Homo sapiens: one gene and its partner. The protein of the gene in region 2 interacts with the protein of the main gene of each other region in a biochemical or structural test. Each region holds a gene or a part of one and is shown on either strand. Other genes may lie near its edges.

Evidence for each region.
Region 1: the proteins of MPP7 (region 2) and PALLD interact in a test that uses a peptide from one of them, tested with the Homo sapiens proteins (one large-scale study listed by IntAct).

What each region holds. Positions count from the first base shown.
Region 1 is NC_000004.12:168,510,552-168,514,051, reverse strand, and holds part of PALLD (palladin), read right to left. Parts: intron 2,630-3,500; coding exon of another isoform or gene 2,548-2,629; coding exon 1,640-2,547; intron 1-1,639. UniProt on the Homo sapiens protein: Cytoskeletal protein required for organization of normal actin cytoskeleton. Roles in establishing cell morphology, motility, cell adhesion and cell-extracellular matrix interactions in a variety of cell types.
Region 2 is NC_000010.11:28,052,779-28,055,064, forward strand, and holds part of MPP7 (MAGUK p55 subfamily member 7), read right to left. Parts: intron 1,467-2,286; coding exon 1,287-1,466; 3' UTR 1-1,286. UniProt on the Homo sapiens protein: Acts as an important adapter that promotes epithelial cell polarity and tight junction formation via its interaction with DLG1. Involved in the assembly of protein complexes at sites of cell-cell contact.

The sequences.
Region 1 (3,500 bases), on a different chromosome or scaffold from region 2:
TCACTGCAACCTCTGCCTCCCAGGTTCAAGTGATTCTTGTGCCTCAGCCTCTTGAGTAGCTGGAATTACAGGCACTCGCCTCCATGCCTGGCTAATTTTTTGTATTTTTAGTAGAGAGGGGGTTTCACCATGTTGGCCAGGCTTGTCTCGAACTCCTGGCCTTAGGTGATCTACCCACCTCAATCTCCCAAAGTGCTGGAATTACAGGCATGAGCCACTGTGCCTGGCCCTTGAGTTAACTTTTTAAATATTTATGTAATTTAGGTAAAGCATTCTGCATGAATAAAAGCAAAACTTCCCAGATAAATGAATATTCATTATTTGTGTAGTATAATCCTGACTTGTTATTTTCATTTTGCCATATAAAATTAAGAAATGAGAAATAATAAAGATAATAGGTAACACTACTGCAGCAGTTACTAGCTGCAAGGTACTGCTTTAATTTTCCCCATGTATTATTTAATCATAAAACAGAATGATGTAGGTATCATTATACTTCCCATTTCACAGATGAAGAAACTGAGTCACAGAGGGGTAGAGTAACTTGGGCAATGGAATCATGACTGGAAACCCTGCAGGGGGACTCCAGGATCTCTTTCCCCTTAACATTTTTGCTCAGGGGAAGGTATAAACTCTACAATGAAGTCAGAAGAATGTATAGAAATTCTAATGAACATGGTGGTATGAGTGCCTATTAACTCTAAGTGCATACTCCCTTCACTGTTATTTCTTGCTGTCTCCATGCTCTAGTGGCCAGAGCCTGTGTAGGAATAACGGGCAGACCTGCGGAGCTCCTGACTTGATTTATCTTTCTTTCTTAGGAAAGTTCTGCCTTCCTTCTTTGCATCACATTGAAGGGGTGTGTGTGTGTTTATGTTACTGAATATGTGCCTATTTAGTCCATGCCTGAGACTAGATTATCCATTTGGGGGATAATTTTTGTTTGGTTTTTGTTTCTTGTATATGAGAATCTTTTTTTTTTTTCTTTCCAACTTTTACATTCGGGGATACGTGTGCAGGTTTGTTACATGGGTAAATTACATGTTGCAGGGCTTTGGCATACAGATTATTTTGTCACCCAGGTAATGAGATTAGTACCTGATAGGTAGTTTTTTGATCCTCAGGCTTCTCCTACTCTCCCCCCTCAAGTAGGCCTCGGTGTTTATTGTTCCCTTTAATGCGTTATTGGGGGCTAATCTGAAGGTTGGCCTCTACACACTCGTGCCTTTCACTTCTAGATAGCAGCTAGTTTTAGCCATGCTTTCAACCGTCTTTAGCAACTCATATTCAAATATACACACACTTTTCACAGTACTTCGAGTAAATAAGTTTCACATCTTAAGTGTGCCTATTTGTTACTAGTTCCACCATCTTAGAGAACAAACTGTTTCCACTGCTCTTTGCCTTCTCAAGTCCTTTGCCTTCCTTCCTTAGCACAGAGGGTGCATGACCACAGATATATCAGGCCAGGGACAACTAGGACAACTCATAGTGGCGATTCTGGGCTGCTTCTCTCCTTGCAAGTACTCTACCTCAGTCTCCAGAGGGCTAATGACACAGGAAATCTTTCTTCCTCCCATATTAAAGTAACACCAAAGTCAACAAGATCATTTGCTATGCATAATACAAAAATTCATACCTGACTCGAGGAGTGGGGTTTCCAGTGACTCTACACTCCAGATAAACTCGGCTCCCTTCTGCTACTTCTTGGCTCCTCAGCTTTTGGATGAATCGAGGTGCAGCTGGGAAGTGGAGGGCGCTGTGGGGCTGTGGGTGAGACTTGCGGTTGTGTGGCACTGCCAAGTCCTGGTTGTCCTGGTAGCAATGCCTGGCCCCAGGGGACTTGACCTCTCTTTCCATCTCCCCTTGGTCTTCCATAGGGCTCTGGCTGGCTGAGGCACTCAGCAGGGCTGACGGCTGATTTTTAGGAGACAGGTACCCACTGTCTGGTGACGAGGACTCCCCATTTGGGCTTCTGTTTCTTGGCTTTGCGGCTTTAAATATGGATGTTAGCTCCTCAATTAAATTAGCTGCCTTGTCACACAGCTGGCTCTGGGGGCCACCCTTTCTTTGATGTGGCGTTTTGGGCTTTACGTTTGTGCTGGGAGTTTTTGCACCACGCTTTTCAGCCTTTCGGAGGCTCCGGATGTAGCTGGGCCTGGTGAGCAGGGGTGACATGGCAGGTTTCCTCTTTGAAACAGGTGAAGAGATACTCTTAGTTTGTTTCTCTGCCAGAGGCTGGACAGGTGTTGACCTGTTATCCTGAGGTCTCCTCGAGGCGTGTTCACCCAATTTGGTCTCCTTATGGGAAGGATGTTCACAGAGGCTTGCAGGAGAAGTACTGAAAATCTGCGAGATCTCCTTTTCCGAGTCAAAATCTTCTGTTTCGGAGTCGGCTATGGCTCTCCGGGCCAGGTCAAGACTCTTGTTTATCTCTTCCTGGCTGAGGAAAGCAGAAAGGCCCGGGAAGAAGTCAGTATTCTTGCTTTCTTCCTGCATGTCTGAGAGGGAGTCATAGAAGGACTCATGGGAGGAGGTCCCTGACATATTTGAACGGTCTTCATGCACTCTGTGTCTGCTTTCAGTAGGAAGGCCAGAGGCACTGGAAACTGTTTTCTGAAACTGTGTTCTGAAAGACAGCATAGAATGTCATTAGTAGCAATGATTTTTTCCCCATTTTAATCATAAAACTTGTAAGTCACAAATTGGGAGAAACATTAAAGTGAATGAATATAAGTTTTCTTTATTTTACAAGTTGGAAGAAATATCAAGTATACTTGTGTTGATCATTTTATGATTTTAATACATGCCCTGTGAGTGCTATCAAATATCTCACTAGGCAGTATTAAATCATTCAAAAAGATGATGTGTGCAGTAGGCACTATTAGTAGGATAGGGCTCACAGTCAGCCCCCCGCCCACCTTACTCAAACTCTAATTGATTAATGTAATGAGATCAATAGAATATTGATATTTTTAGTAAATCTGACTCTGATTATCCAACCCTAAACCACAAAATGCATTTTAAGGATTCCAATTTTCATTTATTTATAGTTTTCAGTGAAATCTTTGAAACTTTATTGTCTCCAGTTATGTGCATTCATATTCATTCACTCAACAGTCCAACAGATGGTAATAATCACTTATTAAATTTCAGGTGCTGGAAGTACAGCTGTGCTGTATGCCAGGGATGGGCAAACTTTTCTGGAAAGGGCCAGATGGTAGATACTCTTGACTTTGTGAGCTGTTCAGCCTCTATTATAATTACTCAACTCTGCATGAGCATGAAACCAGCCAAAGATGATGGAAATGAATGAGCATGACTGTGTGCCAATAAAACTTTATGGACACTCATATTTGAATTTTATATCATTTTAATGTGTTAAAACTATTATTATTTTGATATTTAATTTTTAAACAATAGTTTTAAAATGAGAAAAACATTCTTAGTTTGCAGGGCATACAAAAAGGGTTGGGATGGATTTGGCTCAGGGGCTGAAA
Region 2 (2,286 bases):
TAACATTTTTTTTTCCACTTTGAAAGTCACAGATGCAATGATTTTCGACGGGCAGGGCTTCACTGCATGCAAGAACGGCAGGATATGCTCTCTTATAGAACGGATAGACATTTCTAGCATTTTGAATTATATAATTCACTTGCTGAAAATCAGTAGTATCAAAGAAAAGTGAGAGAACCCATCTAAATATTTACAATATAAGAGTCTTTCCTAAACTTCTTTAACAATGGCAAGGTTAGGATGGTGTCTGGACAGTGTTAACAAGCATTTTGATGACAAAGAAATAACATCACATGAAAAGTTTTCTAAAATAAATCTTAGAGCAATTTAAAGAGGGGTGATCTATTGCACATAGATGAAAAATAATCTTTAATTGTATCAGTAATATGTAAAACAGGTTTTACATGTTTTAGAATAGAAATCCTTCTTCTAATTTATTGGAAAAATCCAAAACCAGCTAAAATAACATTTTGGGTGACTTCATAAATTGTCTTCTGAGGAATTACAAATAAAAATATCCTTTGTAATCATTTCTTGCCACAAGGCTACCATTCTTACTTATATTAATCCCAAAGGAAAGGCTTTTCGTTACATATATAATAACTGTTAAAAGTCTACTTTCCCTTATTAAATGTTGTTGAGTCACTGACAGGTACTCAAAAGGACTTCTCAAGCTATATTATGAAGGCCATTCACTCAAGGTAAAATTTCAGTTACTCCTTTAAGAATTATTTTAAAATGCACACACTGTGAACGTATTGCGAATATGTAAGAAAGTCTACACTTTTTGAATAGTAAGAGGACACCTTACTGCCTGCCCGGCTAAATCTGTGATGATCCACCCAGAAACAGCAGAGCTCACCTGTCTGTCTGGAGCTGCTCATGGCTGCTGAATTGATACCTTCAACAGCTAACATTCAAACTCGACAGCAGCAGCCACACCTGAGACCAGCAGAAGCGCTGAACTCCCATACATACTAAGCCTCTAGCTAAGTCTCTCTGAAAATTTCAGCCTCATCTTGGAGATAGAGCGGTATTGAAGACAACGAGAAGGTTTGAGGTTTTGCTTAGAATACAGTACTGTGCATATTTTGATTTCGGATCTTATACTAACACATGGCGTTTGAAATAAGGCTGTAAAAAGATACAAACAAAACCAGCATTCAACTTGAACCAAGATTGTACATCTATGACAGTGATATAGATTTAAAAACCCTACTACCAAAACTGTAATTGATTTCATCATGCACTCTATAGAAAAAGACAATTATGGAAATTTCTCTTAGTTATGAATGTAACCAGCTCACTGGCACCCAATGGGTCTCTGTCTCTAATTTGTCAAAAGTTGTTTTGAGCTCATTGAATGCCACAGTGAGGTCATCATTTATTATAATTTTGTCAAAAAGATGACCATATTGACTTTCCATTATCTGTGCAGATTTAATCATTTCTTGAAAATCTTCTTCCTACAAAAGGAAGTATTAAAAAAATAATTGGTTAACCAGGCCATTACCTCACTTCATATCAATGCAAACATTCTACAATTGGTTTACCTAATGCTGTTCTGTGTTCAGTCTTTCCCCTCAGCCAGAAATAAAAGTCATCCTCTTTAACCACAAGTGCTTCAGAAGCCATAATTTCTAATACTATTTCTATGATTTGCTTGTAACAAAAAACTACTCTGGCAAGAGTCAAAACTCCTGCCTTAACTGAATTGCAGGATAATGAGTCACTAGTCATCATTATGGGGAAATGTCAGTATTAAAATAGCTATTGGAGAAAAGAATTGTTTACTCTGATGTTTTGGCTGCATTATTTATGCTTATTCATAGGAAGGAATTTATAATATAAACTCCTTTTTCAGAGTTGGACAAATTTGTAAAAGGATGATTACCATGTTTTTTGTTTTTTGTTTTGAGATAGAGTCTCACTCTGTCACCCAGGTTGGGGTGCAGTGGTGCAATCCTGGCTCACCGCAACCTCTGCCTCCGGGGTCCTAGCAATTCTCCTGCCTCAGCCTCCCGAGTAGCTGGAATTACAGGAGCGTGCCGCCACACCTGGCTAATTTTTGTATTTTTAGTACAGATGGATTTTCTCCATGTTCACCAGGCTGGTCTGGAACTCCTGACCTCAAGTGATCCCCACCTGCCTCGGCCTCCCAAAGTGCTGGGATTACAGGCATGAGCCACCACGCCCGGCTGATTACCACGTTCCTTCGATGTCTCATTAAAAGTGTTTCAGGAGCCTTCGTGTCTCACATTTTTAAAGCCAGGAAGTATTTTAGTT